3 linked regions of the Homo sapiens genome follow. The protein of the gene in region 1 purifies or fractionates together with the protein of each later gene. This does not show direct contact. Each region holds a gene or a part of one and is shown on either strand. Other genes may lie near its edges. The genes, in order: ARL14EP, ACTR2 and ARPC2.

The links.
Region 2: the proteins of ARL14EP (region 1) and ACTR2 purify together in Homo sapiens (affinity purification with mass spectrometry; one large-scale study listed by BioGRID and IntAct). This does not show direct contact.
Region 3: the proteins of ARL14EP (region 1) and ARPC2 purify together in Homo sapiens (affinity purification with mass spectrometry; one large-scale study listed by BioGRID and IntAct). This does not show direct contact.

What each region holds. Positions count from the first base shown.
Region 1 is NC_000011.10:30,329,467-30,333,122, forward strand, and holds part of ARL14EP (ARL14 effector protein), read left to right. Parts: intron 1-1,419; 5' UTR 1,420-1,482; coding exon 1,483-1,908; intron 1,909-3,399; coding exon 3,400-3,527; intron 3,528-3,656.
Region 2 is NC_000002.12:65,234,324-65,237,979, reverse strand, and holds part of ACTR2 (actin-related protein 2), read right to left. Parts: intron 1-3,656. UniProt on the Homo sapiens protein: ATP-binding component of the Arp2/3 complex, a multiprotein complex that mediates actin polymerization upon stimulation by nucleation-promoting factor (NPF).
Region 3 is NC_000002.12:218,223,641-218,227,296, reverse strand, and holds part of ARPC2 (actin-related protein 2/3 complex subunit 2), read right to left. Parts: intron 1,378-3,656; coding exon 1,343-1,377; intron 1-1,342. UniProt on the Homo sapiens protein: Actin-binding component of the Arp2/3 complex, a multiprotein complex that mediates actin polymerization upon stimulation by nucleation-promoting factor (NPF).

The sequences.
Region 1 (3,656 bases):
AAGAGCTGAGTCCCAAGGTGTATGCTTCCTCAGTTTTACAAGAAATTGCAGAAAATGTTCTAAAGCAGTTGCAGCAATTTACATTCCTACCAAAGTTATTATAAGGAGCATGTGAGAGTTGGACACATCTTAACCAGATATCAGATTTTTAAATTGATTTCAAGCAAATGTTTAATAAATGATATTTAATTTGCATTTTCCTAGGAACTATGGGGGAAACAGTTTGTATGCATGTATTGGCTTTTGTTCTCTTTCTCTGTGAATTGCCTGACTATATTTGTTTAGTTTTCCAGTGGACTCTGTCATTTTCTAATTGATTTTTGGAAGTGAGGAGTTACTCGAATATTTATGATAATAATCCTAACACCTTTCAAGTGTCTTTTTTTTTCTCCTTTAGTTATACAGAAATGTGTAAATTTTACATATAATCAAATATATCCATCTTTTTATTTATTTATTTTTTTGGTATCTGCTTGCTTGTTTGAAAAATTCTTCCATACTTCCATGTCAGAAAACCTTCTTTATTTTCTCATAAACATGTTTAGTTTTTCTTTTCATGTTTAAATCTTTAATCCACTTGTTATTGATTTTTGTTTGTGCAGAAGAGATCTAATTGTTTTTCCATATGGTTAAAGTCCCTTCTTCATTAGTGTGTGATACCCATCGATTAATAGTACCACATGTCATATACTGAGCCCTCATCTACTCATGGATCTGTTTGTTTATACTATACCAATACCATAGTTTTAATTAGAATAGGTTTAAAGTAAATCAATATGTTACTGTATTTTCCTTCAGGATTACCTTGGCTTTCTTAGACCTTTGCTCTTTCATATAGACCAGCTTGCTAAATTCCAAGGGGGTGGCAGTAGAATATCTGATGGAACTTTGATTGTAACAGAACTGAATTTACAGATGTATTCCCAGATAATTGACATATTTTTTATAATGAGCCACTCCATGATATATAGCTGCATTTATTTAGGGTACCGTTTTTGTCTTGCAGTTTGATAATTTTCTCCATGAAGGTCTTGTTGTATGTCTTTTGTAAGAGTCACATATTTTGTAAGATACAGTGTTTTTTGGTTTCTAGCATCCCTGGTGAATTCTCTTATTAGTTCTAATAGTTTGTTAAACCTCTTGTATTTCTCATGTATCTTAGGATAATATTTCTTATTTCCTCCTTTTTAATTCTTATGTGGTCTTAAATATAATCTGTAATTGCAGATGTTTTCGTGAAGTTCTGACTTTACAGGGAACGCTTCTGTTTGATTATTAAATGTCTATTATAAGACTTCGATAAATACCTTTTTTATTCCTTATTTTCTTTTAGATAGGTGTTGAATTTTATCAAATGCTTTTTCAGTTTCCTAGATAAACTTGCAGCACAAATTTGATTCTCTTTAATATTTTCTCTAGGGTGATCAGCCCATGACCTAAACCTCCAGACAAAATAAAACGGAAAATTTGCTAGAATCAAGAATGATGGATCCATGTTCAGTTGGAGTCCAGCTTCGTACTACAAATGAGTGCCATAAAACCTACTATACTCGTCACACAGGTTTTAAGACTTTGCAAGAATTGTCATCAAATGATATGCTTTTACTTCAACTTAGAACTGGAATGACACTTTCTGGGAACAATACAATTTGCTTTCATCATGTAAAAATTTACATTGACAGATTTGAGGATTTACAGAAGTCATGTTGTGACCCATTTAACATACACAAGAAATTAGCCAAAAAAAATTTGCATGTAATTGACTTAGATGATGCCACTTTTCTGAGTGCTAAATTTGGAAGACAGCTTGTACCTGGTTGGAAGCTTTGTCCAAAATGCACACAGATAATCAATGGAAGTGTGGATGTTGATACTGAAGACCGCCAGAAAAGGAAACCTGAGTCAGATGTATGTGTAATAGTCATTTTTTTCTACATTGTGAATTCTACCATGTAGGATTTTGCTTAACTATAAGAAAATCATATTTACATTATTACTAAATTTGTTAGCATACAGTGAATTAAAAGGAGGGGTGAAAGTGGATGATGTTTCTAAATATTATTCACATATACTGAAGGTCAAGATTGGGGGATAAAGAAAGTAGGCCTGGGAAAGTAATAATAAAATATGCCTAAGACTCCAAGCTACAACTTTTAGTGCGAAGACTTTAGGAGTGGGTTTTAGAATATTCTGGCCAAGCCAGGATTTAGTTTCTTTTCTGATACCAAAGTAACTACACGGGACATGGCAACCACCAAGGGTCTTTGCAGCAGGATGACTTCGCCTTTATATGAAGGACTTGGAAATCACTGCTTTAAAAGGAACATTAGAGAGGTGACTTACAGTAATTGTTTTTTATTTCACTCTTTTTTTCTCCTTTGACACTGTCTCGTTCTTGAGTTTTTTAAATGCTTGTGAATTTTCTTTGCTTCTAGTTCTGAATTCCTACTTGATATGGTCAAGGCTAATTTTAGGACTCCTTGAGGTAAAAAAAAAATAATACATTTTTACATTGTAAAGTATTAAATATTTTACCTCTATTCCTATTGACATGCCTACATGCATATTTAACCATATCAGAACAACTTAAGTTTTCATAAAGCTATCTTTTGTGTAGGACAAGTATATCAAAGAAGCACATCTCAGAATTTTTACTTGTAATTATTTCATAATTCTTACTGCTGGAATATTTTTCTCAGTTTTCTCCTTTTTATTAAACCAAGTTAAAAGATAGTTGAAATTTGAAATTATACTATTTTCCTGTTGTTGTCTTCTCAGAGGAACATCTTGAGGGCCCAGTTTATCTGTAGTTCATACTAGATACTTGCTGATAGTGTCATTGTAGATGTCTTCACCTTATCTATCCAATGTTCTTGTAGAATATATCAGCTGCAGCTCTTTCCTCCCCAAATAACAAACATAAACCCTTAAACACCGAAATTTTGTTTCACCAAAACTTTTCAAAAAGATTATAATACTATTCTAGAACTTGAAATCATATTCTCTGCTCTTAAAAATATATAAAATACAATAATAAGGACCCAGGATTGTTAGGAAATCAGTTATGTGCCACTGGATTATATAGCAGTTTTTGTGCCTTCTCTCCTGTGTTGGCAGCAGCCATTGCAGTTTTCACAATGCCTTCCTCCTCTGCTCCTAATATACCAGAGACTAAAATAAAATAATGGAAATGTTACTAATACATTAACCAATATGCTTTGAATATGGTCTAGGGCCATGTAAATTTTCTTGCACTTAGGCTCTAAAACCTTGTTTTCTTTTTTGTGTGTTCCAGACTGTCTTCCATGTTAGGGAATCGTCTGGTTTAACATTAAATAAAATGTTAATCTGTTGTCTGTTGTCAAGATTTGAGTTGATAATTTGTTTACCTTTCTTCAGGGAAGAACTGCTAAAGCTTTGAGGTCATTACAATTTACGAATCCAGGAAGGCAAACTGAATTTGCTCCAGAAACTGGTAAAAGAGAAAAAAGAAGGCTTACAAAAAATGCAACCGCTGGTTCAGACAGGTAGGCTAAGTGTTACTGAAGACATGTTAACTTGCTGCTTCACATCTGCATTGTTCCCCTATTTTTCTCTTAAATTTTGAATTTTCTGGGTTCATATTTTAAATTGGATAATGTAGAATTAGTAAAAAC
Region 2 (3,656 bases), on another chromosome or scaffold:
CTCTGTCGCCCAGGCTGGAGTGCAGTGGCTCCATCTCAGATCATTGCAAGCTTGGCCTCCACCGCCCCCGCCCACGGGTTCAAGTGATTCTCGTGCCTCAGCCTTCTGAGTAGCTGGGACTACAGGTGTACCTCACCACGCCCAGGTAATTCTTTTTATTTTTAGTAGAGACGGGGTTTCACCATGTTGTCCTCAAACTCCTGACCTCAAGTGGTCCACCTGCCTCGGCCTCCCAAAGTGCTGGGATTACAGGAGTGAGCCACCACGCCTAGCGTAAGTTTTAAAATTTTTTGTAGAGATGGGGTCTCACTATGTTGCACGGGCTGGTCTGGAACTCCTGGCCTCCAATGATCCTCCTGTCTCAGCCTCCTGAGTTGCTGGGATTACAGACATGAGCCACTGTGCCCGGCAGTTACAAATTCTTGTATAGTCTGTTTACGCTGGGCCCAGTGGCTCACACCTGTAATTCCAGCACTTTGGGAGGCTTAGGCAGGTAGATCACTTGAGCCCAGAAGCTCGAGACCAGTATGGGCAACACGGCAAGATTCCCCCCCGGAAAAAATTACAAAAAATTTAAAAATTGGCCAGGCATTGTGGCATGTGCTATAGTCCCAGCTATTCCAGAGACTGAGGTGGGAGGATCACTTGAGCCTGGGAGGTTAAGGCTGCCGTGATCATGTGAGACCCTGTCTCAAAAAACATACAAAAAATAAATAATACATAGTCTAGTAAGAGCAGACATTGCAAGGAAAGGGCAATTAAAAATTTCAGGGTGGGAGGAGGAAGCTATATAAGAAAGGAAATGTAATCATAGTCTGCACCCTCTTTAACAAGCATTTATTTAATGTTAGCTACACTGTGTTTACTGATGAATTCCAACTGCCTAGAACAGCGTCTGGCACATAATAGGTACACAGTAAATGATCAATAAATATTAAAAGTTTTGCTGTTGACTTAACAGTATGATACCATGATTGTTTTAAAATATATTTAATATTCAGAAAAAGTCTGTTTTTCTATGGCTCCAGGCACCACACATTCTTAGAATTAAGGATGAAAAATAGTACCTGAATGTGATACATGACAGTAATAAAACAAAGGTAGACAGAAAAGAGCAATGTACCTCTTGATAGAAGGCTACTATGCACACCACTTGAATCACATGAGGCCAGAAGTTTGAGATCAGCCTGACCAACATGATGGAAACCCATCTCTACTAAAACCAACAAAAATTAGCCAGGTATGGTGGTGCATGCCTGTAATCCCAGTTACTTGGGAGGCTGAGGTATGAGAATCACTTGAACCTGGGAGGCGGAGGTTGCAGTGAGCTGAGATCACGCCACTGCACTCCAGCCTGGGCAACAGAATGAGACCTGTCTCAAAAAAAACAAAACAAAACAAAACAAAACCCAAAAAAACAAAAAACCAACAACAAAAGAAAGCTACTATCTACAAGAAACTCTTTTGTTTAATGCGGTAAAACTTAGCAAGATCTTATGTAGCTCTCCAAAACATAAAAATTTGGTATTTTCAAAGATCTCTACAGCAGCCCTGTTGGAGATGACGCTGATGAACCACATTTAATTATAAATAGCCTAGGACATTCTGCCATCCAGAATTTCACTTGTCTTTTTTTTTTTTTTTGAGATGGAGTCTCGCTCTGTCACCCAGGCTGGAGTGCAGTGACGTCATCGCAGCTCACTGCAACCTCTGCCTCCTAGGTTCCAGCAATTCTGCCTCAGCCTCCCAAGTAGCTGGGACTACAGGCGCCTGCCACCACGCCCAGCTAATTTTTGTATTTTTAGTAGAGACGGGGTTTCACCATGTTGGCCAGGCTGGTCTCTAACTCCTGACCTCATGTAATCCACCAGCCTGGGGCTTACAGGCATAAGCCACCGCACCCGGCCCCACTTAGTCTTTTAAAAACAGAGTTTTTTCAAATATGTTACAGTCATGACAATCAGATTAAAGCTTTTATGAAAAATTCGTCTGAAATGAGGAAAGTTCACACTCCCAATGCCACCTCAATTCCTATCCTTTCACCTCATGTTTACATTTTATTAATAGAAACTACATAAAACATATTATTCAGATGTCTTCTTACAAGCCCACAAACCTAGTCTTAGTTTATATTGAGCCACCAAGGTAAGGGCATTTTTCAGGTACAGCTATCCATTTCTAAAAGTATAATACAATTCTTTTGGATTATTTTATTTTATTTTATTGAGACTGAGTCTCACTCGGTCATCCAGGCTGGAGTGCAGTGGCGTGATCTCGGCTCATTGCAACCTCTGCCTCCTGGGTTCAAGCAATTCTCCTGCCTCAGCCTCCTGAGTAGATGGGATTACAGGCGCTCGCCACTGCACCTGGCTAATTTTTGTATTTTTAGTAGAGAAGGGGTTTCACCAAGTTGGTCAAGATGGTCTCAATCTCCTGACCTCGTGATCCACTCGCCTCAGCCTCTCAAAGTGCTGGGATTACAGGCGTGAGCCACGGCACCCAGCCTGGATTACTTTTTAAGGCAGAAGTTAGCATGATATGATAGCATATGCAATAGATAACCCACTTGCTCACAGCTATTTCCCCTTGGCAGTGGTTGATAGTGATGAACTGGAATACACTTCCCACCCTTAAAATGAACAGAATTCAGGAGTAGTAGTTCATTTTTTCTCAGTGTCTTCTTAAATAATGTGACCTAAGACATGGAGGAAAAACTACCTCAGAGGAAAAGAATAACATCTAGTATTTTTTAGTATTTTCAAACTAAAACATAACACACACACCACGTGCACACACACACACACACACACCTCTCACACACTCTTCTCTCCCAAATCACAAACTCTCTTTTAAGTCAAAATCCAGTTTACTTGATACAAACTTAAATGATATGGAAGAGAATCTGTTCTCATCATTATCCCTATTGTTCCCACATTTCTGTATAACATCTGTCATGATCGCCAGCCTAATGTCAGTCATAATTTACACAAATATCTCAAATATGGGAATTAAATACTATTTTGATATTAAATTATTATGCCTACCTCCAAGTAATAAACAGATATAGTCAAAAGTATCCATTTATCCGGATGAAAATGCTCACTTATATGCGTATAAATTATCTCAAAAAAATTATAGAATGAATGAATGAATGAAAAGAGAACCTACCAGTTTGTAAGGTTCATTTTTGGCATGCTGAATGCAAATAAATAAGTTTACTAAGTGAGAAATCGTAAGAGAAGCTGGAGGTGGCAGGAGGAGCCTGGGATGGAGCATAGGTCTGATCCTAGTGCAGGGAAGAGGCTGCTAAGGTTGACACGTCTCCCCTCTCCTTCAGAGCTACACACACTGGACATACAACATGGCAAAGTGGCAAATAATCACATCACTCAAAGTCTTCCAATTATAATCGTTCAGATGGGTAGTTCGTATCTTAACATTCTTATGAGTATATTTTAAGCAACAAACATTTCCCAAGTTAGAAGACAAAAACTGAAATCCCTGAAACTATAAAAACAACTGTAAACCTACTATTACTGCCTAACAAAAAAAAAGACTTTTCATTCAAATTAAAGATTATCAATCACTTATTAATAAAACTATTCTGCTTGAGCAGTAGTTTATTGGAAGCAGATGTTGCCATAGAACTCAGCACC
Region 3 (3,656 bases), on another chromosome or scaffold:
TAGGACTCCCCTCTTTTTCGGTTCTATCTTTCTGCAGTACACAGGACTGACTCAGCCTGTGTAATTCCTGAAACTAGGAATAGGTTCCTGAAACTAGAATTAGGTGCTGAGTGCCATCACTTTATGGAGCTGTCATGGGAATCACGAAGGGATATCTGGCAATGCCAGTTAGTAGGAGGGTAAAGGGATGGTGCCTGGCCTCCAGGTAACAGCACTTCAGAGCTGCAAAAGTCTTCCAAGATCATCTTGTCGAGGACTCTTGTTGTAGAAAGGGTGGTTGTATTCCTCTGAGTTCATTCACCTAACAAGTAAATAGTACCAACACCTAATTCTTTATAGGGAACAGAAAGCAGCAACATCTCTCTCTGACTTGATGAACACATCTCTAGCTGTTCATGTTTCCCTACTACTCTAGTGCTAGGCAAACTAAGACTGACAGCTACTTGAAGATAATGTAATATTTCCAAATTAAAAAAAAAACACAACAAAAAAACCTCAGTTTTACCACAAAATTAAATCCAAACTTCTAATTTATCAGCAGGTAACTTTATATTGTCAGTCATCAGTGGATTAAATACATGAAATGGTCATCTATTATAAAGAGCTCAAAAAGACCTGATGAGGGACAGTATCCAAAATGTCAAAGCTTTTTTTTTTTTTTTTTTTTTTTGAGATGGAGTCTCACTGTCGCCCAGGCTGGAGTGCAGTGGCGCGATGTCTGCTCACTGCAAGCTCCGCCTCCTGGGTTCATGCCATTCTCCTGCCTCGGCCTCCGGAGTAGCTGGGACTACAGGTGCCCGCCACCATGCCCAGCTAATTTTTTGTATTTTTAGTACAGACAGGGTTTCATCATGTTAGCCAGGATAGTCTCGATCTCCTGACGTCGTGATCCGCCTGCCGTGGCCTCCCAAAGTGCTGGGATTACATGCATGAGCTACCGCACCCAATCCATGTCAAAGCTTATTTTAGGTACAATTTTCTTTTCTTGTCTCTCTCTTTTTTTTTTTGAGACAGTCTCACTGTATCGCCCAGGCTGGAGTGCAGTGGTGTGATCTCAGCTCACAGCAACTCCTGCCTCCCAGTTCAAGTGATTCTCCTGCCTCAGCCTTCCGAGTAGCTGGGATTACAGGTGCCCACCACCATGCCCGGCTAATTTTTGTATTTTTAGTAGAGGGGGTTTCACCATGTTTGCCAGGCTGTTCTTTAACTCTTGACATCAGGTGATCCACCTGCCTCGGACTCCCAAAGTGCTGGGATTACAGGCATGTGCCACTGCACCCAGCCTATTTCCTATTTTTCATATTGTACCTTCTCTTCAGAGGGCTGAGATAAAGATGCTTACCTGCAAATGTTACTTCTACTGCTTCCGGTTTGTTTCTGTAAACAACAAAAAAGGTCCTCAGTTAAGATGACTGTATTGCTGCTTACCTTCAAAGGGAACTGGAAAGGCACCTGAGCTTCACTTAAGATCAGACCATTCTGTATAAATTTTAGGTTACTGCCAATCAGAGTACACAATTCATTTTCTCATGGACCTGAACCTTTGGACTTGCTTTAAGTAGAGGATAAAAAAGGAAGGTCAGATAAAAAAGGAAGGCCAGCTATAGCTTTTGTTTTTCACCTGCTGTTGAATCTACTGCTTTGGTTGGTGCTCACTTTCAATTCTGAATTTCCTAACAACATGCTATATACCACAAAATGCCATCTTTTGGTCAATGCCTTCCCCACAGGACAGTGGTATTAGGAGTAAAACGTTCAGCAGGAAAATGGCTAAGTATAATGTAGAATGGTTTTAATATGCTTAAAGAGAAAGGATGATTTCGGGCCATAAACAAAACGGCAAGTTCTATTCCACTTCAAAACCCGTCTGTAAGCCTTCCTACTCATCTTTCTTTCTTCCTTTACATCACCAAAGTACTTACCACTCACCTTCAAGAAACCCTCTTTAGTTCTACCCTAGTTTTGTCTTGCTTTGTAAATTCCAGCTCGGAACTTAAAATAGACAGTGTAACACAAAATAACACTATGAAATCACTAAGAATAGTCAGGACATCTGCTTTACAACTTTAGCTTTCTCATCACGCTCATGTTTTGGGACAAATACCCTTACACCTTTGCATTCTCCCCTATCATCAATAAAATGGGGGAATAAAAATGAACCTATTTACCTCATGGAACTACTACATATAACACAAGAACAGACCTGAAGTCCAAAGTAGGAAGCAAATGAAGACTATTGCCTTACCAGCTAGCTACCTGTAAACTCAATGATTCCACTTTGTTTTAGGGGCTAGCAAACAAGATGCGCATGTTTTCACATTTATTTTTGTCTAACTTGCTCAAGACCTCTTAATCAAGTACGTATCTTTCCACGATCTCTGCTCCATTACCTGCGAAAGAAACGAAGACTAAGTTGCTCTCCAGGGATGCTGGGAAATAATGGAATATATAACATGGTTTATGAGTGTTAAAAAGCTGATATAGAAGCCAGACAATACCTTTCAAAAAAACTGGCTTCTATGAAGCATGCTAGCCCTGCTGAAAAATCAACCTATACGAATCATACAAAGCTTCACCTTGCTTCTTCAAAGCCCTATATGTGACTTAGGAAAAGCGCACTGGGTATCTCTACGAATTGAAGTATCAAGTGGGTTTACGGAGAAGCAGAGAGTTCAGAATAGAAGGAAAAAACTAGATGAAAATTTAAATTGCTTCTGAGCCTTCATTTTGAAACTGTAGCCAGGAAACAAAGGCAACGAGTCCAATACCATTCCTCACCTCTAGAAAACAAGAGCAAAGAACAAAAATATGGAAATGTTAATCATGGACCAACTGAATGAAATATTAAGAGGATGACCAATGGGAGGAAGCATGGAAGCATACTTTCCTGGGGAAGGCTGACTGTGCTGAAGAGTCAGGGAGTTTATAAAAGCCCATTATTACATCACTTAGTAAGTTTTTTTTTAACCTTTAGGTTTTAATTCAGCCAAAGAAGGGCTGAGTTCCTCACTCTCCTACTTTGTCAAAAGACCTGAGAAAAACCAACTATAAATAAATAACCTTTGGGCTCCAAGTCATACACACTTTGAGTCTCTAATTTCAAATTTCTCTAGGCATAAAGTATCCTGAGCACAGATCCTTGTGGGAAAAGTTGCTACGATCGATCTTAAGTGGTCTGCTGTCTGACTTAGCAATATTTGTCAAATCACATTCATTAATATTTTAGTTTACTATTTATGGCTAGAAGAGAGAGAATGGCTGCTGAGGAGAGTATTAGGCCAAAGGAGACTTCATGGGAAGTCTTCTGGGAGTTAGAGGTCCGAGAACTCAGTGCCTTAACGATGAGTTTGCTGAGCGTGAAGTATACCATCACAAGATTGCTTCTCAATTCCAAGACCTGGCGTTTGTTATTTTACTTCTGTGGTTTAAAATTACAAAGGAGCGGGAGGAAGACTGGCCCAGGAAAAGTGTTCCACTAAATAGGCCCCCAGAATTAATAGTTACATTATTTACTGTTCTACCAGCTGCTAAAATTTCAGATGCTGGGGGTGAGAAAAAGCAAGTTATTTAGAATTCAGAATTTATTGGCTATGTGACCACAGGCAATGCTCCTCAAATGTCACCGGGCCTCAGGTTCCTCTTCTACAAAATGGGGA